Regions from separate parts of the Homo sapiens genome. Here regions 2, 3 and 4 are each linked to region 1. Evidence: fine-mapped expression QTL. A gene starts in region 1. Each other region holds a variant in brackets. All regions are shown on one strand. Distances are between the middles of the regions. Region 1 holds the start of HSDL1 (hydroxysteroid dehydrogenase like 1). Region 2 has its middle 14 kb from the start of MLYCD. Region 3 overlaps HSDL1 (hydroxysteroid dehydrogenase like 1). Region 4 overlaps MBTPS1 (membrane bound transcription factor peptidase, site 1).

Region 1 (6,512 bases):
TTAACAAAACCAGTGTCGTGGAAGTCCTGTATGCTGTTCCTCTGATTACAGCCCCTCCTCTATCCTGGAGGCAGCCTCTCTCCTAAATTCTGGGGTAGTCACTCCCTGACTCTTTTAACAAAACAGCTGTATACCCCAAGCATGTATTCTGAAACAGTAACAGTATTGCTGGCCGGGCGCGGTGGCTCACGCCTGTAATCCCAGCACTTTGGGAGGCCGAGGCGGGCGGATCACGAGGTCAGGAGATCGAGACCACGGTGAAACCCCGTCTCTACTAAAAATACAAAAAATTAGCCGGGCGCAGTGGTGGGCGCCTGTAGTCCCAGCTACTCGGGAGGCTGAGGCAGGAGAATGGCGTGAACCCGGAAGGCGGAGCTTGCAGTGAGCGGAGATCGCGCCACAGCACTCCCGCCTGGGCGACAGAACGAGACTCCGTCTCAAACAAAAAAAAAAACAGTATTGCTAAGTTTCGCCTGGTTTTGAACCTCACATAAAGGAACCACACCACATGGACCCTTTGGTGACTTGTTTCTTTCACTCAACATCATTCCCGAGACTCATCCATGCCCCTGCAGCTATATAGTCCATCCTCCTCGGCAGCTGCACAGTATCTCACGGTTCAGATGCACTGCAGTTCACAGGTCCCCCTGCTGCTGGTTCAGATACACCACGATTCACAGGTCCCCCTGCTGCTGGTTCAGATACACCACGATTCACAGGTCCCCCTGCTGCTGGTTCAGATACACCACGATTCACAGGTCCCCCTGCTGCTGGTGCTAGGCACGTGCACTGTTTCTGCTGGTTTTGATTTACAGTTAGGAACAGTGCTGCAGGGAGCGCTTGTCCCCATCTCCTGCACACCTGTGCAAGAGTTCGCAAAGGGATTTGCCCATGGTTTAACTGCTGGTCCACATGCATTCCACTGCCAAATGCTTTTGCAAAGCGGCAGAACCCATTCACACTCCCGCCAGCAGCAGGTTCGTGCCACTCCTCAATGTCACTGGCTGGTAGCGTCCAAAGCTTCACCTTCTGCCAACAGGGTGGCTGTGAAATGGTATCTCATTATGGTTTTAATTTACATTTCCCTGGTTACTAGTAAGGCTGCAGTCCTTTTTATATGTATGTGCTTTCTGTGTTTTGTAATCTATGAAATGCCCGTTCCTATCTTTTGTCCTTTCCTTTTTTTTCTCTCAGAATTGTAAGAATTCTTTAAATATTCTAGATACTAGCTCTCTGTATGTTTTGTGTCTCATTATAGTGTCTTTCATGAACTAAATGTGTTGTTATTATTATTGAGACAAGGTCTGGCTCTATTGCCCAGCCTGATGTGCAGTGGCATGATCACAGCTCACTGCAACCTCCGCCTTCCGGGCTCAAGCCATCCTCCCACCTCAGCATCTCAAGTAGCTGGGACACAGGCATGTACCACCAAGCCCAGTTAAATTTTTTTTGTGTGTGTAGAGATGAGGTTTCACCATGTTGCCCAGGCTGGTCTCAAACTCGTAAGCTCAAACCATTCACCTGCCTTGGCCTCCCAAAGTGCTGGGATTACAGGTGGGAGCCACTGCACCTGGCTGAATGTCTTAATTTTGAAAGAGACAAATATATCAATCTTTCTGCTTTAGGGTTTGTTTTATTTCAGAAATCCCTCCTTAGCCTCAGGTCATGAAGAAATTTTTTCGAATTATTTTCTAGAAATTTTACATTTTTGCTTTTTCAGTTTAAGTCTTTAATCCTCCTGGCGTTTTGTGATGGTGTGAGGCTGGGATCTCACACATCTTTTTTTTTTTTTTTTTTTTTTTGAGACAGAGTCTCACTCTGTCACCCAGGCTGGAGTGCAATGGCGCGATCTTAGCTCACTGCAACCTCCTCCTTCCAAGTTCAAGCAATTCTTCTGCCTCAGCCTCCCAAGTAACTGGGACTACAGGCGTGTGCCACCATGCCTGGCTAATTTTTGTATTTTTTTCTTTTTTAGTAGAGACGGGGGTTTCACCATATTGGCCAGGCTGGTCTTGAACTCCTGACCTTGTGATCCGCCCACTTTGGCCTCCCAAAGCACTGGGATGTGACCGGCCGGATCTCACACATCTTTAATATTCCTCCTCAGCACCTGACATGCTGCTGTAGACAACTTTATTTAATAAACAGAATCAAATACTGCTTTGTGTTCAAAGCTCAAATTTCACTCTTGAGAAAAAAACTTAAGCTTTTCATACTCTGCGTCAGCACTATGACAAAGTTAGCATTGGTGTATCAAGACTTTTTGGGATGTCTTTACCTTCACTGCCAATTTTTGGTATAGGACTAAACGCACAATGAAGCTGAGCCTAAAGAGCAGCAACATGGAATTAGAAACCTGGATTCTCATCCAAGATCCAACACTCTTCACCATCATGTCTGTATTTATGCAGTAAGAATTAAAATATTCAGAGTACCCCACTCCTAGGCAGATACCCAAGATAATTAGAAACTTTTGCTCACATAAAAACTCCTGCTTGCATGTTCACAGTGGCCTACTCACAACTGCCAGAAGGCAGAAACAAACAAAATGTCCATCAACAAATGAATGAATAAGCAAAATGTGGTGTTATCCACACAAAGGAGTATTATTCAGCCATAAAAAAGCATGAAGTACTGATACATACTACAACATGGATAAACTTTGAAAACATTATGCTAAAGGACAGAAACCAAATACAAAAGGCCGTATGTTGTATGTTTCCACTTGTATGAAATGTCCAGCATAAGCAAATCCATAGAGACAGAAGATAACTTAGGGCTGCTGAGGGACAGGGGGAGAAAAGAGGTATGACTGTTAATGGGGTTGGGGTTTCTTTTGTAGGTGATTAAATGTTCTGGAATTAGTTACTGGTGATGGTTGCATAGCATTGTGACTATAGCAAGAACTACTGAGTTATACACTGTAAAATGGCTAAAATGATAAATTTTATGTCATGCGTAAGTCATTTCGATTTTTGAAAACCTACTTTAAAAAAAAGTAGCACCAATATGTTCAACTCTGTTGCCCTAGAATATTCCAGCAGTGATTAAAACCACAAACTTGGCCGGGTACAGTGGCTCATGTCTGTAACCCCAGAACTTTGGGAGGCCAAGGCGGGCAGATCACTTGAGGCCAGGAGTTCAAGGCTACCCTGACCAACACAGCGAAACCCCGTCTCTACTAAAAAAAAAAAAAAAAAAATTAGCTGGGTGTGGTAGAACGTGCCTGTAATCCCAGCTACTCGGAAGGCTGAGGCAGGAGAATCACTTGGGCCCGGGGTGCGGGATGGCGGGCAGAGGTAGCAGGAGCTGAGATCGCAGGCACCATTGCACTACAGCCCGGGCGACAGAGCGAGATTGTCTGAATCAATCAATCAATCAACACCCTCCCCCTCCCCCTCCCTCTCCCTCTCCCTCCCTCCCTCTCTCTCTCTCTCTCTCTCCTGTGGCGGTCAGAGTAAAATTGAGAGCTCACTTTATGCAAAAGACTCTGCTAAGTGCTTTATTCCTATTGTCTCACTTTATTCTCTCATTAATCTTATAAAGCGCAGTCAGACTCTCCCGTTTATAGATGGGGAAATTGAGTCTTATAGATGTAAAGTCGCACACCCAAGACCCCACAACTCAGAAAGGGGCTACCTGCAATTCAGATGGAGGTATAGCAAGGCGCAGAGTCCTGTCCAGGGAGCCCACTGTGAGACCCCCCGACTGCCTCGCAGTCACCTGTACACATCATGTTGGGATCGCCGAGGGGCGCTGCAGCGATCCGGTTTCTGGGGCTGCGTCTGGGTGGCACGTTCAGAACGGGGACCTGCCTGGTTCTTCTTCCCAGCCCTTCCCCTCCAGCACCCGGCAAGGCCCAGTCAACACGAGCAAACTCGGAAATCCTGGCTGAACCCACGACCGCTGCATATTTCCATTTTAGAAAAACACGGCAACAACAACTCAAACCAAATCGTTCAGAAATGAGAATAAAGAAGCACCGACAAAGGAGGCGATTGCTGGGGCCGCTCGGGGGAGGAGCCGGGTGAGAGGCTGCAGGGAGGGCAGGGCATGCGCCGGCGACAACGGGGTTCGCGGTTTGGGGGGCAAGGCCCGGGGGAAGAGAGAGAACAGGGGTGCAGCGCCGCGGCGGGGGGCGTGAGGATGGAGCCGGGGGAAGGGGGGCTCTGAGATGTGAAGGGGCGGGGCTGGGGCTTTTTGGTCTGAAGGAAGGAGTCTCACGGGACGGAGGGACGAAGATTTCCTGGGGTCAGGGGCGCCAAGGGGCTTCGGGGCCGGATGCAGCGGAGGGGGCCCGGGGCCTGGGGGGCGTGGTGAGAGCTCAGAGGGGTCTCGCCAAGCAGCCGGCTGGCGCTGAGGGGACCGAGGAGGGGTCTGGGGCGAAAGGACCGCGAGAGGGCGCCCAGGGCGCGGGGGGCGCGGTACCTGCAGGCCGGCAAAGTCTTCCAAACCGGTCCCGCCAGACCCGCGCGGCCGCCGCCCCCGTCTCGGCCGCCGGAGCTGCTGCCGCGCCGCGCCCTCACGTGACCCGCGTACGCGCCGGGGGCGGAGCCGTCTCAGACCCGCCCCCACCCCCCGGCGTCCCCAGCGCGCCGGTCCGTCCCGAGTGCGCGTGCGCAGCGGTTGCCTGGGCGACCGGGGAAGCGTTGGGCTGTAAAGACTAGGGCGCCAGCGGCTGGCGAAGAAGGAAAGAGGGTACTCTCTGGCTGGGCTGGGGCCGTAGCGACGTCCGCCGCGAACCTGGGCCCCCCAAAGCTGCGGGGCGTTCGGTGTCGCCGAAGTAAACATGCACCCTGAGCCCTCGGAGCCTGCGACAGGTGGTGCAGCAGAGCTGGATTGCGCGCAGGAGCCCGGCGTGGAGGAGTCTGCGGGTGACCACGGGAGCGCAGGCCGAGGGGGCTGCAAGGAAGGTGCCGACTGCCCCCCAGGGAGGGCGGTGGGCGAGGGGCAGACACGGCTAGGCGCTCCAGCCCCCTTCCCACACCACATACCCGATCTTCACAGCCAAATAATAACAATAATAATAATGGTAGCAAGCAACGCTCTGCAGTAGGGGCTTCTCTCGCCATTTCGTACTGAGGAGGAAACATACTTAAGAGGTTACAAAACTTGCACCAAACAGATAACCCTCGGCTAGTCAGTGACAGAAGAGACTTGGCCGGGTGCGGTGGCTCAACGCCTGTAATTCCAGCACTTTGGGAGGCCGAGGCGGGCGGATCATCAGGTCAGTCAGGAGTTCGAGACCAGCCTGGCCAACATAGTGAAACCCTGTCTCTACTAAAAATACAAAAAATGAGCTGGGCGTGGTGGCGGGCGCCTGTAGTCTCAGCTACTTGGGAGGCTGAGGCAGGAGAATCGCTTGAACCCGGGAGGCGGAGGTTGCAGTGAGCCAAGATCTCGCCATTGCATTCCAGCCCGGACGACAGTGGGAGACTCCGTCTCAAACAAACAAACAAACAAACAAGCAAACAAAACCCACCAGACTCAGGCCCAGACAGTCTGGGTCTCCAGAGCCCCAGCCCTAACCCACCACGCTATTCTCCCTGGTCCCAACTTTGATGCTTTAAATGTGTCCCTTTATTGCTATCACTATGTAAGATCAAAGGCTTTCTCTCCCTCCAGACTGCATGTTGTGTCAGGGCAAGACATCTTGATTGAATTTGGAGTCTAGTCCAGTGCCTGACCTAGGGTAGAGAGTCCGAATGAAGACTTGGTTCTGGGGTCAGTGTGTGATCCCCTCACCAAAGTTTGCCAGAATGGACTTGAAAGATAACCTTCATGGCCAGGCACGGTGGCTCACGCCTGTAATCCCAGCAATTTGGGAGGCAGAGGCAGGTGGGTCACCTGAAGTCAGGAGTTCGAGACCAGTCTGGCCAACATATTGAAACCCTGTCTTTGCTAAAAACACAAAAATTAGCAGGGCGTGGTGACGTGCTCCTGTAATTCCACTTACTTGGGAGGCTAAGGCAGGAGAATTCCCTGAACCCCGGAGGCAGAGGTTGCAGTGAGCCAAGGGGGAGGCTGAGGCTGCAGTGAGCCAAGATCACACCACTGCACCCCAGCCTGGGCAATGGAGCAAGACTCCGTCTCAAAAAAAAAAAAGGAAAGAAGGAAGCCTGGCTTCAGCTTCTGCTCCCACTAGACTTGGTGCCCTAAAGGAAACCTTTTAGTGATTACATTAAAAAACCACTTGATTTGTGTTCCAGTTTCTGAACGCAGGCAACAAATAAACCAGCTGATTTGTGTTCCAGGCAACAAATATATCTTAAGCATCAACTGTCCAGATGAACCTTGTATGAGGAGCCATAGGGAACTGGCATTACTCAGTGGAAAGACACTGGTCTTGGAGCCATTGACACTGGGTTCAAGTTGAGGCTCAGCAGCTGGCCAGCTTTATGGCTGTTGGCCCAGAGCTTAACCTCTCGGAGCCTTAGTCTCCTCATCTGTAAGCTGGAATAATTATACAGGAGTATAAGGAGAGAATTATAATTAAATGTCCCAGCATATAG
Region 2 (6,512 bases), 260 kb before region 1:
GCGCCTGCCACCATACCTGGCAATTTTTTTGTATTTTTAGTAGAGACGGGGTTTCACCATGTTGGCCAGGTTGGTCTCGAACTCCTGGCATCAAGTGATCCACCTGTCTTGGCCTCTCAAAATGCTGGGATTACAGGTGTGAGCCACCACACCTGGCCAAGAATGATGTGGTTATTAACGTGGATAACTTCAAACCTATTCTTTATGGAGCTACAGTGTCCAAATCTTAAGCATACAGTTCTATGGTTTTTACATAGATACAGATCTGTGTAATCCACTCACATAAAAATAAAGAATTTTCCCAGCACCTCAGAAGGCTCCCTTCCCTGTAAATGCACACACCTCCTACAGATGCAGTCACTGTTCCGACGTTGATCATCATAGATTAGTTTTCCTTCATCTTTCCTTTCATGTCAGTGGAACACACGGTGCATAGTCTGTCTGTCTGTTTTCCTTTACTTATCATCGTGTTTATGAGATCCGTCCATGTCGTGTGTACTGGTCACTTGTTCTTTTTTATTGCTGTGTAGTAGTCCATTCAATGAACATACCGCAATTTATCATTCTCCTGTTGATGGACATTGGCTGTTCACCATTTGTGCTAGTACCTAGAAACATTCTAACGTTTGCCTTTCAGAAGTTCACTCCAATTACAAAAAAGTTTAAATCCCCTACAAACAGCCATGTGTTAACTTTTAACAGTACCCAGTTATTTGGGATAAAACTCATAACTGCTTGAAACCCAAAATGCTGGAGGCACCAGCCACTGCTGACAGCCGAGAGAGAGTGTTGAAAAGCTTTGAGCAGGAGAGTGATGCAGTGGTGTCGGATTTCACAAAAAGCATTCAGGCAGCAGCTGAACACCACCATTTCTGTGACTGAACTGATGCCCTTTCTGGGGGGCAGCCATGTGCTTTGGCCATTGAAAACACAGAGGGTGTGATGGAGAAAAGAGAATGCCCACTGTTGTTAGTTTTGCTTTTCACTCCTGCCATCTCTCATTCCATTTGGAGAAAGCCTACAGCTGAAATTAAACTTTCAGCTCTAGGGGCAAATCTGTTTCTCCTTGTCCTGCGTCTGTCAGAAATGATATCCATTCCGCAGACTAATGTCCCTGTACCATGGTGCAAGCACTTCCCTGCCAGCTCCAAAGCCGGGCACCAGGGAGAGCACAGGGCACTGAGTTCTTGCTGTCCACACCCTGTGCAGATGACCAGGGATCAGCCACCTGCCGCTGTCTCCCAAGAAGAGAAGACAGAGCAATGATGGTTTCATCAAAGCCCCTGAAAGGGTGGGCAAAGCTGGCGTAGGCTTGGCGGCTAACAAATGTGAAATGGGAAGTTTTGGGGGCTGTCATTGGAGCCTTTTTTTTTTTTTTTTTTTCCTGAGAAGGAGTCTCACTGTGTCGCCCAGGCCGGAATACAGTGGTACGATGTCAGCTCACTGCAAACTCCGCCTCTTGGGTTCAAGTGATTCTCCTGCCTCAGCCTCCTGAGTAGCTGGGATTACAGGTGCCTGCCACTACACCTGGCTAATTTTTGTATTTTTAGTAGAGACGGGGTTTCACCATGTTGGCCAGGCTGATCTTGAACTCCTGACCTCAGGTGATCTGCCTGCCTTGGCCTCCCAAAATGCTGGGATTACAGGTGTGAGTCACCACGCATGGCCCATTAGAGCCATTTATATGGTGTATCAGTTCCCACTGCCTTTGGAAGGAACTGCCTCTGGCCACAGCCGATTGGATCAGAGCTAGACACTTGGTTCTGAAGCCGGAAACAAGGTTCAGAGCTGCTTCTCAGCCCCTGCTGGTTCTTCTCTCACACATGAGCTGGGAGAGCGAGAGGGCCTTGAGCTGCCTCTCATCCAATAGGCAAGGTGTGCATGGTCCCAGTCACTAACTGCATCCCAAGTAACTACTGTCCTGACCCCTGACAGCAGAGGTTTTGACAATTTTTGAACTTTATATCATGATATCACACAGAATAGGCTCTCTTGTGTCTGGCCACCTTCACACCATCATCTGTTTGGAGATGCATCCTATGGCTGTGTAGGTTGAGACTTCATTCTCGTTGCCTTGGACTGCTCCACCGTGTGAACGTGCCATGCTTTATTTATGCATTTTGCCATTGATGGATGTGAGAGTAGGCGGAGTGTGTGATGTGATTCTAACCAATAGAATACAGTGGGTATGATGGAATCCACTCACAGTTACATTACACAGGACTGTGACCTCCACCTTTCAAGAGCACTTTCCCCCTTGCAGGCCTTGTTAGAGCAAGTGGCATGTTGGGGAGGCCCCTGTGGCAAGGAAGTGAAGGCGGCCTCCAGTTCACATCCAGAAAGAAACTGAGGCCGTCAGTTTTATAGCCACAAGGAACTGAATTCTGCCAAGCACATGTGAACTTGGAAGTGGACCCTACACCTGCTGAACCTGGAAATGAGACTACTGCCTAGCAGACACCTTGCAATTGTGTTTACAATAGGATTCCAACATATGAAATCCTAACCCCCAAGGTGATGGTATTAGGAAATGGGGTCTTTGGGAGGTGATGAGGTCATGAGGGTGGAGCCTTCATGAATGGGATCAGCGTCCTTATAAAAGAGGCCCGAAAGAGACCCCTTATCCCTTCCACCATGTAGGGACACAGCTAGTAGTTGCCATCTATGAACCAGAAAGTGGACCCTCATTACACACCGAGTCTGCAGCTGCCTCGATATTGGATTCCTCAGCCTCCATAACTGTGAGCAATAAATTTCTATTGTTTATAAGCCACCCAGTCTGTGGTATTGTGTACAGCAGCCTGCA[T/C]GGACTGCAGCTTTGTGAGATTCGGAAGCAGAGTCCACGACCTAACTCCTGATTCACAGAAACCGTGAGGTCAAAAATATGTGTTGTTTTAATCTGTTAATTTTGTGGCAATTTGTTATGTAGCAATATAAAACTAACACAACGGACATTTGGATAGTATCCAGATCTGGGCTTTTAAACCCTGGGCTACCATGAACATTCTAGTGCATGTCTGTGGAAGCCAAACCGACTCTATCTTGGATGCTAGTCTACCACGTTGGCTTGTGATTAACCCCTGTTCTGGGAAGGTCTTTAAGATTTCAAGTGTATCTATTGTTCCTTGTGTGAGACCAGGTCCTTGCCATGAATCCTGCCCTTAGCCAGGCAACGCTGATGTTGTAGTACTTCAATTGTCCCACACAACCCTTCAGAACTACCCCTCCCCTATGGTGTATAAGCCCTGGATCTCAGCAGCAGTGGCACAGGGATCCACCATCTTGTCCCACTGCCACCCAAGACACAGACATGTCTTCTGTTCCTAAGTCCCTATTAAATGTTTCTTACTAAGACACTGGATTTGTCAGCCTTTTTCTTAGGCTTCTTGGCTTCCTTGCACTTTGGGGTAGGTTTGCACAGCCCTGCCCACCGCAAAACATGTATTTTGGTGAATATACATATATATTCATGTTTGGTATATACCTTGGAGGGAGCTGCTGGGACATAGGAATGCATATGTTCAGCTTTAGTGGATTCTGCCAACAGTTTTACAAACCAAGTTACATTTACATGGGTAAAGATGGGATTCAAACCCAAGTCTGCCCAGCTCGGAATCAATGTCATAGCCTGTGTAAAGATTTGGGATGGGCTAAGGAGATACAAGGATGACTTCTCTTTCCTTGGCACTGATTGAATATGTCTTTATAACTATGTTGAGACTGGCCAGGAGCCAGTATCTCATGCACAGTCATTTCTGCTTATTTAGCATGAGGGGTCTCATAATTTTGAGTTTCATAGTCTCATAATATTAATCCTAAACCTCAGAAGCACCCTCTGTTTTTCTTATCCACAAATATTGGGAGGGCGTCTTAGAATGGATTCTCATCACAATTTAATTAGAAAGGAAATGTTTAAATTGCTACATATGTATTTCCAGGCAGCTCGGAACTGGCCCGTATCTGTAATCTCACTGAGCATACAAAACGGTAACAAATGCGAATGGAACACCTACTATGCTGAGCTCCCACAGAATAGTAAAGCTGCAGAAGGATTATGAAAAATGACAGGCCCCACGCTCACATACCACAGCCCACATGGTACTTGTGCCAGCTATTTATTGCTCGGTAACCAATCAGCCCAAAACTTAGTGACTTAAAACAACAATATTTTGTCTCTCAGGGTCTCAGTGGATCAGGAATTCAGGATGAGTTAGGCTTAGGGTCTCTCGTGTGGTCTTAGTCCAATGATGGCTGGAAGTAGAATCCCAAGGAATTGGAGTTCATGAGGGCTGATCAGTCTCTCTCTCTCTCTCTCTCTCTCAGGGCCTCTCCACGTGGTCTCTTCATGTGGGCTACTTTCGGCTTCCTCACAGTGTGGCATCCTCAGGGGAGCTGAGCTTACTGCTTATTAAGTGGTAGCTGAAAGCTTCAAGAGTGAGGGTTCTAGCAAACAATGTGCAAGCTGCATTGCCTTTTATAGCTTTATCCTGGAGGTCACGCAGCATCACTTCTGCAATGTTCTGTTTGTCACAAGCAAGCAAAAGGCTGTGTCAGATGCGTCCCCTGGGAAGCAGACACCGAGATGGGAGTTAGGAGTCAAGAAGTTGATTGGGAGTCATACCTGAGACAGAGAACGGGAGGAGGAAGCAGAAGGAGGCTGGAAAGGCCTTCAGGACACAGTGTGGCTCTAACAGCTGTAAAGGGAAAGGAGGGGACACGGGATGGTGCAGGAGAGTCTCAGGTGGCAGCATAGATCAGACAGGGTCTTGGCCAACCCACTTCATGCTCTGGGACAAAGAGTCCCATGATGAACAGAAACAGCCAGGCCCTAGACCCCTGCCCTGCTTAGTCATTGGCTGAGACTGTCCAGAAAGAGAGTGGCCTTGGCTTGAAGGCGAAGACACACCCTGGTGGTGCTAACAGGTGCAGACCACACTTACAGCTGAAAAGTAACTCTTTTCTTGAAGGGAGACCTGAGCGGTGAAATCCTCAGCTACCAAACAAGCCCACCCAGATTCAGGGGAAGAGAGTTAGGTTCCACCCTCTGATGGGGAATTGGCGAGATTGTAGAAGAACACGTGGGACAAGAATTGATTCTAGGAAAATTCCAAATTCTTTGGAACCTAAAATGTGCTATAACACGCAAACATAGCTTGAGCACAGAACGGTGCGTAGGTTGGAGATGAACGTCTTAGGCCTTGGAATCGGCCGGAAATTGGTTCAAGTCTTGGCATGTCCACTGACTAGCTGTGTGACCTTAGGCAAGTTACTTAACCTATCTGAGCCTTAGTTTTCTCATCTGTAAGACTGACAACAGAGTAAAGCCCATCCTTCATGGGTTACTCTGAGAATAAAATGTGATCATACATGTCAAAGTTTAGCACCGTGCCTAACATGTAGTCAGTGTTCAGGAGGGAAAGTACGTCATTATTATTTACTGAGTAGCAAGAAAATCATAACAGTCCAAGACCACTTAGTCTAAGCAATAAGTGACCCACTGTGTCAACGCAGGAGCCCCCAGGAGCATGACGAAGTGCATCCCGTACAATACGGATTTATTCCCAACAAACAGTTTCACACTAACTCGGGTTTGGTGAGGACACTGAGTTATCAAGAAGATATTGACTTGTATTTATTATAGATATTAAATCAGAAATTGTGAGCTTTTATAAACACAGAACAGAAGTCATTGCTCGACACTCTGAGCTCTTTAAAAGCAGGAATTGTGCTTTATTTGTTCTTGTAACACCAGGGCCAACAGCTGGCACGGAGTCATTGCGCCCCAAATGTTCATGGCATTGAATTGCATCTAATAAAGATAAAACTTGGCTTGCTGGAAGATGCGTCGATTCATAACATCTTATGATGCTAGATAAATATAGGTTCTTTTTCTTATCCAAAATGGAAATGGGAAAAAATATGACTCGTTCTTATTATTAAAAGTTATGCATGCTCGTTGTAATTTAAAAAACCCAGGCAACTCAAAAATATGTTTAAAAGACAGTTTTAAAAAACCCATCGCCCAGAAATAACTTCTGTTCACATTTTGGTGAACCTTCTTTCAGAGTGCTTTTCTAAAAAAATTAAAATAGCATCATGGTATAATGTCTTGTAACTCAATATTTTTCACGTGGCAACATACGGCCACCAGATGAGTGAAAGCTGACACAGACATCAGCGGGGAATTCAGAAGGAGGGAGGAAGACAAAGACTGCACTGCTGTTCTCTCGTCCTTTGCATGACCACCATTGTGTGGGCTGCTGGCTGTCCTTACAGGCTTAGCTGACGCTGCAGCCGCCCACCCTCCATGCTTGGACATGCTTGGATCTCTGACCCGGAAGCCCGTCCCTGTCCAGCTCAGCTCTCCCCTCTCAGTCCTATGAGCCATTGTCTCCCACAAGGTCTCTTATTGGTCATCCCTGACCACAGCATCACATACTCTTCTCCCCACCTCAGCTGAAGGGTCTTCGACTCCCTTCCCTTCTTCTCATCTCTGATAAGCAGGAGGACTA
Region 3 (6,512 bases), 20 kb before region 1:
GTGGCTGGAACTTTGGCAGTTTGAGGTGTGACAGCAAAACTAGCATGAATTTCTTTTTCCTTCTTTCCAATGTCATGGAGAGATTTGTTTTACTGCAGATCTCAGCAACTTCAGCATACAATGTTTTTCTTTCCTTATTAAGTGGAGAAGTTTTACCTTTTCACTTAAAAGAGCACTTTACAGCTTCTTGGTATATCCATAGTGCCAGCATCACTACTCTTGGGCTTTGGGGACATTACGAAGTAAAATAAGGGTTACCTGAACAGAAGCTGTGGACATGGGGAGAATTCCAATCCCAGGCAGGAGGGAGTGGGATGGTGCGAGATGTCATCACACTCCTCAGAACTGTGTGCAATTTAAAACTTATTAACTGTTTATTTATGGAATTTTCCATTGAATATTTTCGGACCTCGATTGATCATAGGTAACTGAAACCTCAGAAAACAAAACTGTGGATAAGCGGAAACTACTGTCCACAAAGCATGATGACACAAGTCCTGCCCCACTGTGTGTTCCCATCCAACTCACTGATGGAGGTCACCCCCCTAAGTATTTCCACAACCACCTGAGCAAACACTTACTGAAGAAGGGTGTCAACGTCACGCCACGGGAAGGCCATGAGCCTGCCCACCCCCTCCCCCGGGAGCACCTGTCTCCATGCCTGCAGCACCATCATCCCGCCCTCAACAGTGGCGCTGTGCGGGGCTGGCCAGAGCACATCGCCCTCGCAGGGGGGCTTGCTGTGGAAGTGGAAGTTCTATTTGTGCACGTTCCAGAGTGGGTTCTAGAGCTGCCTCCCTTCCCTTTCAGTCTCACCATAGGAATTACACAGAATATTTTTTTTTTTTTCTTTTGTGACAAAGTTTTGCTCTGTCTCCCAGGCTGGAGTGTCGTGGTGCGATCTCAGCTCACTGCAACTTCCGCCTCCCGGGTTCAAGTGATTTTCCTGCCTCAGCCTCCTGAGCAACGGGCATTACAGGGGCGCGCCACCACGCCCGGCTAATTTTAGTATTTTTAGTAGAGACGGGGTTTCACTACGTTGGTCAGGCTGGTCTCAAACTCCTGACCTCATGATCCGCCCGCCTCGGCTTCACAAAGTGCTGGTATTACAGGCGTGAGCCACTGCACGCGGCCAGGAATAACAGAGAATATTTCTACTGAATTCACGACTGTCCTGTGCTTGGCTTTATACTCATTAAACATATATGAATTTTTAAAAAGATAAATAACACATAAGCCAATACTGAGACTGAGACATAAATTGACTGGAATAGGTTTTGAGGACATAACCATCTAACCCTCTGGTTCCCAAATGTGATTAGATTTTAAGTAATTGAGGATAGGAAAACACAGGAAAGTCTCCTAGGAGCTGTCTCTATCTGCTCTCTTCCCTTTTTTTCTTCTTCCCACTCTTTCTTGAATCCATTACAATTCTAGCCTGAAGACTGAAATGGCTCATGGAAAAAAATCACCAATGATCTCCATCCACACAGCCAAATTCCATGCTCAAATCAATCCTCACCTTACTCAACCTACCAAGAGAAAGAGATCCAGAAGTCAACCCAGTAGCTTCCAAAGACTAGGCACATAGTTATAAACAATTTTGTTACTGACGTGTCAGCTTTTAATCAGTTATGACCACTGTTGTTCATGTTAATTTCTTGCAATCACTCCTAAGAAAAAAAAATTCTCTCATTCCAAATTACAAACAACCAAATTACAAACATCTGGAACAAAACTCTTCCAAAGGAAACAAACAACTACTTTTATTGTTAAACTTTCAATTCACAGATTAACTTTCAAAGGTTCATATTTCCCACGTTCTTTTTTTTTTTTTGAGACAGGGTCTCGCTCTGTCTCAAGGCTGGAGTGCAGTGGCACGATCTTGGCTCACTTCAACCTCTGCATCCTGGGCTCAAAAAATTCTCCTGCCTCAGCCTCCCAAGTAGCTGGGACTACAGGCATGCACCACCCTGCCTGGCTAATTTTTGTATTTTTTGTAGAGACAGGATGTGTTCCCCAGGCTGGTCTCGACCTCCTGGGATCAAGCGATCCACCTGCCCTGGCCTTCCAAACTGCTGGGATTACAGGTGTGAGCCACCGCACTCGGCCCCTATTTCCCACATTCTTAATGACACCCCATCCACAGTGGTCCAATCAACTTTCAAATTAGCTCTGGGGAAAAAAATACATTTAATGAAAGCTAGAAAACCTAGAGAAGGTCTTGCTCTTCATCTTTCACTGCAGCTATGGACAGCTCGGCACCACATTTGCACCAATCAGCATGTTTGCCCATGTCCTGCCAAGGAGAGAAGTTTACATCATCACTGACAAGGTGTGTTCACCTATTCTCATCACGTAACACTGATGGATTCCATACCTAATTTATCAATCTAAGACATTACTGGACCACGTAACCTTACATATAACTACCTGACCATATTTTCACATGAAGTTGCTGCTGCTTATTATACATCAAAGTTCACGTCAATGTGGCATGAAGTCAAGAGGATTCCAAGCAAACTCCATCAAAACCTTGGGGCTCACAGCATCTCCCAGTGTGTAGATTTTCACATCTAAGTTCTGAAGACATGATCTAAGCGTGGAAGAGCTTCTGAAGTTGACCACTGATCTTCTGAGTGCAAGTCACATCTGGAAATCCTGTAGGCAATGTCATGGGCAAAATTGTGTTCATAAAACTGTGCTTAGGTCTGCTTATGATAGATTATCACGTCACGAAAAAAATGCCACAGAAGTCCAGACTTTTAACCAATCTACTAGCTTCTGCATCAGTATCACAATGCCGAGCTCTGAATTTTAAATGTGCACATATTGTCATATTCATATAGTGACTTAGAGTTTTCAAAGCACTAGGTACATGGTCCTCAAAAATGGTTGGCTTTATATGACCCAAACTAAGGACATTTCACAGGTTTCAATGTTAACGCGTATTGTGAGGGTTTGTGCATAATTATCTTCACACCAGTAAAGGTATTCACTACAATACATAAATTCATTACACAAACCAAGAATAAGCTTCTAACTTATATTGACAGATATGTCACACACGTAATTTGTCCATATTTTACTATTCCATAAATACTTACTATTTCTATCAATAATGCTACTGGAATGGAATAATATTACATAGAAAAACGTAGGAAAACCAGATATAACAAGCTCTAAAGGGCTAAATTTCAGTTATAAAATGGGTCAGAGGCTGAGAAATCACTATTTATCCACAAGAATTGCCTTATAAATCAAAAGATGACTGCAGGTTTCTCTTACATATCCAAATCTAGGAATAAGTTCATTCCATAGCAGATTTGAAAAAACACAAATATAATGTAGGAAGTAATATCATTCATGGCAAACCAACAGCATGAAATTTGGTAGGCTTATTTAGGATGAAAAGGAATAATCTAGATTGTTTTAATACCCTATAAGAGTCCATGTTAAGTCA[C/T]CCTGACAAAAAATCTTTTTAAAAATATGGTAACCATAAATAAAGTTGCTCAAAGGCACCACACACACGCACACACACGGTTCTCTAATGAAATACCAGTTGAAGTGCAGCATTTTCATTACAGATAGTCAAACAGCTAGAGCTATACAATACACACAGATTTTTCCTAATAGTACCAGCAATCTTAGTTACAAAATAATACTTTTCAGTAGTCTTTCTTGATGCACATTTAAAAACCAGCACAACTCCTCTAGTGAAATGGTCAATTTCCCTTAAAAAACAACATCTGAAATTATAAGACCTGACAAATCATATTATATTTCAATATTAGACTGCTGTGGCTCTAGAACAACAGAAAAGCGTAACTTTCAAACAGCTTAGGGAAAAAGCACTGAAATGTAGATGTCGTCAATCAGCCTCAGGCATTATTGATCCTGTGCCATCCACACACCCTTAAGGTTTTTCACAGCACTCTGACGGTATTATGTGTGTTTTGCAAATGACGAATCAACAGTATGCTGAATAATCAGCAATGAAACACAGGAGATAAATTAAATGTGTTTTTCCAAATGTCAGAATATCGAGGTTCCCAGGAGTTGGCAAAACTTCTCAAGTGGCCATCCAGACTCAGGCTGTGCAGGATAAGGCTTCCTTACGTAGTGAACGGTTGAGAATATTTGCTCCCCACACCCAGAGCCATTCAGGCATATACTGTGCAAAAAGAAACTAAAAATGAAAGAGAAAAAGGTTGTAAGGTTAGAACCCAAAATCAACACTGAAGGAACAAGTACACAGACCAGCACATGAAACCCACCAATCACAACAAATACCCACCAATCAATCACAACAAATACCCACCAATCACAACAAATACCCACCAATCAATCACAACAAATACCCACCAATCACAACAAATACCCACCAATCACAACAAATACCCACCAATCAATCATAACAAATACCCACCAATCACAATACACACCAATCAAACAAATACCCACCAATCACAATACCCACCAATCAAACAAATACCCACCAATCACAACAAATACCCACCAAGCAATCACAACAAATACCCACCAATCAATCACAACAAATACCCACCAATCACAACAAATACCCACCAATCACAACAAATACCCACCAAGCAATCACAACAAATACCCACCAATCAATCACAACAAATACCCACCAATCACAACAAATACCCACCAATCACAACAAATACCCACCAATCACAACAAATACCCACCAATCAATCACAACAAATACCCACCAGTCACAACAAATACCCACCAATCACAACAAATACCCACCAATCAATCACAACAAATACCTACCAATCACAAACACCCACCAATCAATCACAATACCCACCAATCAATCACAACAAATACCCACCAATCACATTACCCACCAATCAATCACAATAAATACCCACCAATCACAATACCCACCAATCAATCACAATAAATACCCACCAATCGATCCCAACAAATACCCACCAATCACAATAAATACCCACCGATCAATCACAACAAATACCCACCAATCAATCACAACAAATACCCACCAGTCACAACAAATACCCACCAATCACATTAAATACAACAAAGGAAAAAGCCTCCAGGTACTACTGTACTGAATACCTACTTTTGCCTAAGATCTTACCCTAGATTCTACATGGAACAGAAACATGACCACCACCCACCTACCCGACTTTCTGTAATGAGGCTGGACTGTCCTGCATGTAAATACAATTCTGTCTTTACTTAACGTGATATGAACAAAATGTTCACTGGTTAAGAACCACAAAATCGGCTGGGCACGCTGGCTCATGCCTGTAATCCCAACACTTTGGGAGGCCGAGGCGGGTGGATCATGAGGTCAGGAGATCGAGACCATCCTGGCTAACAGGGTGAAACCCCATCTCTACTAAAAATACAAAAAATTAGCCAGGCGTGGTGGCGGGAGCCTGTAGTCCCAGCTACTCAGGAGGCAGAGGCAGGAAAATGGTGTGAACCGGGGAGGCGGAGCTTGCAGTGAGCCGAGATCGCGGCACTGCACTCCAGCCTGGGCAACAGAGCAAAACTCTGTCTCAAAAAAAAAAAAAAAAACACCACAAAATCATTATAGGAATAAATCAGTTGGAACAGACAGACGCATACGTGGTTAGTACTCTATGAGAAAACTGGGGCTTGAGGGGTAGTATGGAACAAAGTTCAACAAGAAAACAGGTCAGAAACACCAGTACCTTGGGATGGTATCTTGACCTATGATGGGGGTGCTCAGGGGACCAGGGAAGGGAGTCCTGCTGATGCTGCTCTGCTTCAGGGTCTCACTCAGGGCCTTTGTGCTAGCAGCAGACATAGGGCAATGTCTGAAAACAAATTTGGTCGTCACACTGGGAGTGGATGCTACTGGTATCTAGTGGGTGGAGGCCCAGGATGGTGTTCAACATCCTACAATACACAGGACGCTCCCCATGTCAAGGAATTACCTGCTCTCAATGCCAACAGTGCTGAGGTGGAGAAAGCCTACACTCCTCTAACAGATTTGTTCAGAACCGAATGAAAGTTCTAACACCGTGTATACGAAAGAGAAGAGAGACAGGCCCTTGGCAAGTACTGACATTCTAGTCTTGAACTGAACTGATGAATGATAATAGAGGTCATTCAATCCTCTTGTCAATAAATGGACACAGGTTACTCTCCAGGGAGGACACACCCACACCCACACACACACACACTCACGCACTTTGTGAACAAAATCACAGCAGCAAAAGCTATCAGAGAAATATGCCATGGACAAAACAGCAAAGGATGAATCAAATCTTTGATGTAAAATTGGAAATAAAAAATGATAGTGTTGAAAATAATTTGAGTAACATAAAATGAAAACAGAAAGTTTTAACAACTTTATACAGAAAACTACTCCAGGAATTAAATCAGCTTAACAGAATTTCTTGGCAGAAAAATACATTCTCAAGGAAAGTTTATCAATGTGAACAAAATTTAATTTTGAGTAAACTGTTCGTGTTTTATAAACA
Region 4 (5,000 bases), 33 kb before region 1:
AGACTCACTAGACAAGTCAGTGAGGCTTTGCAAGCACAGACTGCACTTTCCAGGGTCTAATACATCTATTCAGCTGTGACGAATGGTCCCTCCTGGTTCTCACTATACAATGCAAACCCGATGGGCACACTTCCCAAGATGGGCTCACCACTGAGAGGTAAGCAGACAAGCAGCAGCAGGACAGGCAGACAGAGCATGCACACACAGATACAGACACACAAACCTAAGGAAAAGCACTGTTTTCTTCTTTTTAGATGGAGTCTCACTTTGCTGCCCAGGCTGGAGTGCAATGGCACGACCTCTGCTCACTGCAACCTCCAACTCCCAGCTGAAGCGATTCTCCTGCCTCAGCCTCCTGAGTAGCTGGAATTACAGGCACACGCCACCACACCCAGCTAATTTTTGTATTTTTAGTAGAGACAGGATTTTGCCATGCTGGCCAGGCTGGTCTCGAACTCCTGACCTCAGGTGATCCAGCACCTGCCTCAGCCTCCCAAAGTGCTGGGATTACAGGTGTGAGCCACTGCGCCCAGCCCAAGAAAAGCACTTTCTAAAGAGTGCTAACTCTGCCTTTTCTTCTTCCCTTCCTGAAGAATTCTGCTGAAGACAAGAAGGCAGGCGTTCATGGGAGAATGGCAGAAGCCCACTACAGGGTCTTAAGAGTCTGAGCGGAGTGAGGAAGGTATGTGAAGGGAGAGGCACCAGGTGAGGGGGTCAGAGCCTGGCAAGTGAAGAAGGCACCAGGCAGGCAGTGGGGTGATAGCAGTGAAGGTAAAACTGTTTGATCAAATAAATATTTTACATATAATGGGATGCGGCTTTCTTACTGTCAGAGAAGAAAGTTAGAAATATGAAAGAGAAAAAATAAATGAACCATTCAGTATCAGAACAAAATGATAAATGCTGGTCTGAATTTAAGGTTTTCAATACATAGACTAACAGATGTAGAAAGAAAGAAATCTAAGTGCACGTGTACGTGCTACACACATTTCCTAGCTATCTCCAAAAGGGTGTGGCAGCAGTGAAATCCCAACAGCAAGGAGCCCACCTACTGCCCACAATTGGTTCTAAATATCACTCTCCACTAAAAGAACCTAGGCTCTTTGGACAAAGAACTAGTTCCAGTCTGGGTACGGTAAGAACAAGATGGGTTTGGAACAGTGTCACTCAATGAGGAAAGGCTCACAGAATGATGGGGAAGTGTCCAAGGAACATGGAAGCCAGTTTGGTGGGGCCCCCACTAACAAAATCCGGGACAATCTGAGCATCACGATAAATAATAACAGATCCCAACCCGTGGAATAAAACAGGAAAACAGGAGTCCACAATGACATGAAGTTTGAAAAAGAATGAGATATTTACATCATGTCAAAATGCCCAACTGCCAACAAAATATCTCTTTTCAAAGGGAAAAGTCATTTTACAGTGGAGAAGCTCCACCAAGTTGTCCAAGGGAAGCAGTAATGGGACACACGGAGCCAGGTCTACGAGAGCAGATGCACTGAGAAGAGCCGGCATCACTTCTGGGAGGTTCCTGACAAAGATGCACAACCTGAAATCAAATCATGAGAAACATCAGACCAACCCAAATTGAGGGACATTCTACAGAATCAACTGGCCTAGAATTTTCCTAAGCACCAAGGTAATGAAAGGCAAGAATGACTGAGCTACTGCCCCAGATTGAAGGAGACTCCAGAGTCAGTGCAACTCATGAATCCAAACTGGATCCATCTGCTGTAACAGGCACTCAGGGACAACTGGCAAAACCCAAGTAAGCCTGCCCGTGGATCAGATGGTAGTGATGTATCAAGACTAATTTCCTGATTTTGACAACTGTGCTGTGATTATGTAAGAAGGTCCTTGCTTGGAAAATACACCCACTAAAACACCGGGGGATAATGGAGTATCAGGTCTGCAATTTACTCTCA[A/T]ATGCTTTAGAGAAAAAATGGTTTCATACTGTTCGTGCAACCTTCCTGTTAGGTTCAGCCTGTTTCCAAAACAGGCAGAAAAAATAAGTTCTTTATTTACCCTCACCTGCCAAGGACGCATGAGGCTGGGCTATTTTAAATGTGGTGACAGGCACATTCTAAGCCTCTTATTCAGATTCAGTCAGTGCTGATCACTGCATACATAACCAGACCACACACGTCAGACAGATTTACACTCATCAATTGTTACGTAGAAGGACATCCAAAGATGGGACTGAGCTAGTTAAAGGGAAACTAAAAGCATATCTCATTCTAGGAAATTGACAGAATTCCTGAAAGGATTCATGGTAAATTTCTGCTAACATTAACCTGTGTTTCTATGATTTACATTAAACAAATCAAGTAACATTTTGACAGAAAAACCTGAGGCACCCCCTCTAGAATAAAAATTATGTTTATTAAGTTAACAAATCCAATAAAATAAGTACTCTCATATGTTGCTGGTGAATATTAAAAAAAAACAACCTTTTAGAATGGCAATTTTCACATATGTATTAAAACGCTTAAAAATGAACATTAAAAACTTTTCGTCTAACAAATCCAAAATAAGAAAAACACTCACTGAGCATTTATGATGTAGCAGGTGCCATTCTAAGTAGTCTGCAAATATTAACTAATTTAATCCTCCCAACAACCCGTTACTACCCCCACTTTCAGATGAGAACTGAGACCCAGAGTAGCTAAGCAACTTGCCTGGGGCCACAACACCAGCAAGTAGAACAGCTGGGCTGAGAACTCAGGTGGTCAGCCTGGCTCCAGAGGCCACACTCTTCAGAGGCAGGTCGCCTGCTTTCCTAAAATCTCCCCTAGGGATTCAATCCAAGAAGTATGAATCTGGAAGCACATAAGGCTTTATGTCCAAAGATACACACTGCAAGATTATGAGCAGGAAAAGCTGGAGACCATCTGAATGTGCATAAACAAGGAGACTGGCTCAATAATTATGGTCGGTGCACACCACAGAACGCCACGCAGCAATTTCAAATGCTCCTCCTGCAGTAGGCTGAAAAATGGTCCCCACAAAGATGCTCACATCCTCATTCCTAGAACCTGGGAATGTTACTTTACACACAAAAGCATACAGGCCAAAGGGACTTTGCAGCTGTGACTAAATGAAGGCACTGAGACAGTATCCTCGGTGATCCAGGTGGGCCAGGTGTCATCACAAGGGTGTCTATAAGAGAGAGGCAGGAGATGACAACAGGTAGTAATAGATGTGATGATGAAAGCAACAGGCTGGCTGGGCACAGTGGCTCACGCCTGTAATCCCAGCACTGTGGGAGGCCAAGTCGGGCAGATCACCTGAGGTCAGGCGTTCGAGACCAGCCTGGCCAACATGGTGAAACCCCGTCTCTACAAAAAATACAAAAATTAGCTAGGTAATGGTGGTGGGTGCCTGTAATCCTAGCTACCCGGAAGGCTGAGGCAGGAGAATCACTTGAACCCGGGAGGCAGAGGTTGCAGTGAGCCAAGACTGTGCCACTGCACTCCAGCCTGGGCAACAGAGAGAGACTCCATCTCAAAAAAAAAAAAGAAAAAAGAAAGCAATCAAGAGGTTGAGATAATTTGAGGAAGAAGTCAGGAGCCAAGGAACGCAGGTGGCCTGTAGAAACTGAAAAACAAAAGGAAACTGATTCTCTCCACAGAGCCTCCAGACGGAGACAACCCTGCTGAAACTTTGACTTGAGCTCAGTGAGGCGGATTCTGGACTTCTGATATCCAGAACTGTGAGACAGTAAATTCATGTTGTTCTAGGCCACTGTTTGTGGTCATTTGTTACAATAGAAATATGGGGAAATGCTAATGAAATGTTAAGTAAAACAGTTCATGCACCACATAATCCAAATTTTTACATTTCAATTTTAAAATGTGTCTATGAGCAAAAAAAAAAAAAAATGCAGCTGGGTGCGGTGGCTCATTCCTGTAATCCCAGCACTTTGGGAAGCCAAGGCAGGCGGATCACTTGAGGCCAGGAGTTCAAGACCAGCCTGGCCAACATAGCAAAACCCTGTCTCTACTAAAAATACAAAAAATTAGCTGTGCATGGTGACACATGCCTGTAATCCCAGCTACTCAGGAGGCTGAGGCAGGAGAATCGCTTGAACCAAGGAGGTGGAGGTTGCAGTGGGCGGAGATAAAGCCACTGCATTCCAGCCTGGGCAATGGAGAGACTGTCTCAAATGGAAACAATGACAACAAAAAAAACCACTGAAAGACACATACCAAAATGGTTACAGTGGTTCTACCTTTCAATTGTATGATTACAGATAGTTAATTTCTGCTTTAATTTATTTGTTTATAGGGAGCATATGTTACTTTTATACTTAGATAAAACATATTTTAGTATTTTTAAAAACTTTTCAAATAAATTGGTTCACTCCTGTAATCCCGGCACTTTGGGAGGCCGAGGCAGGCGGATCATGAGGTCAGGAGATCGAGACCATCCTGGCTAACACACTGAAACCCCGTTTCCACTAAAAAATACAAAAAAAATTAGCTGGGCGTGGTGGTGGGCTCCTGTAGTCCCAGATACTCAGGAGGCTGAGACATGAGAATGGCGTGAATCTGGGAGGCGGAGCTTCCAGGGAGCTGAGATCACGCCACTGCACTCCAGCCCGGGCAACAGAGCGAGACTCGGTCTCAAAAAAAACAAAAAAAAACAAAAAAAGAATACGCCGGGCTCGGTGGCTCACAGCTATAACCCCAGCACTGTGGGAGGCCGAGACGGGCAGATCACCCGAGGTCAGGAGTTCAAGACCAGCCTGGCCAACATGGTGAAACCCCATCTCTACTAAAAATACAAAAATTAGCTGGGTGTGGTGGCACACACCTGTAATCCCAGCTACTCAGGAGGTTGAGGTGGGAGAATCGCTTGAACCTGGGAGACAGAGGTTGCAGTGAGCTGAGATCAAGCCACTGCACTCCAGCCTGGGAGACAGAGCGAGATGCCATCTCAAAAAAAAAAAAAAAAAAAAGAATAAATCATACTTTCTGGTAAGAGAGTGGCACAAA

What was found. PIP is the estimated chance that this variant, and not a neighbour inherited with it, causes the effect. A credible set is the group of variants that fine-mapping cannot tell apart.
Region 2: its variant is the best candidate, but not a certain one, in a credible set for the expression of HSDL1 in fibroblasts (GTEx, PIP 0.83).
Region 3: its variant is the best candidate, but not a certain one, in a credible set for the expression of HSDL1 in cerebellum (GTEx, PIP 0.61).
Region 4: its variant is the best candidate, but not a certain one, in a credible set for the expression of HSDL1 in blood mononuclear cells (TOPMed, PIP 0.73).

The regions. Positions count from the first base shown.
Region 1 is chr16:84,140,652-84,147,163 of GRCh38, forward strand. It overlaps HSDL1 (hydroxysteroid dehydrogenase like 1), which reads right to left and starts at 4,526. Exons shown (of 6, transcript NM_031463.5): 1 at 4,429-4,526. DNAAF1 (dynein axonemal assembly factor 1) reads left to right here and starts at 4,657. Exons shown (of 12, transcript NM_178452.6): 1 at 4,657-4,913. The coding sequence starts at 4,790. RefSeq lists silencers at 3,951-4,000, 4,051-4,100, 4,261-4,710.
Region 2 is chr16:83,881,510-83,888,021 of GRCh38, forward strand. No RefSeq gene overlaps it. Among named protein-coding and RNA genes, the nearest start is that of MLYCD, 14 kb to the right of the region's middle. The variant T/C (reference allele first, on the strand shown) is at 2,807.
Region 3 is chr16:84,120,540-84,127,051 of GRCh38, forward strand. It overlaps HSDL1 (hydroxysteroid dehydrogenase like 1), which reads right to left. Exons shown (of 6, transcript NM_031463.5): 6 at 1,602-4,189. The coding sequence ends at 4,091. Among named protein-coding and RNA genes, the nearest start is that of MBTPS1-DT, 6.8 kb to the left of the region's middle. The variant C/T (reference allele first, on the strand shown) is at 3,464.
Region 4 is chr16:84,108,032-84,113,031 of GRCh38, forward strand. The region is part of intron 1 of MBTPS1 (membrane bound transcription factor peptidase, site 1); the gene reads right to left. Among named protein-coding and RNA genes, the nearest start is that of MBTPS1, 6.4 kb to the right of the region's middle. The variant A/T (reference allele first, on the strand shown) is at 1,929.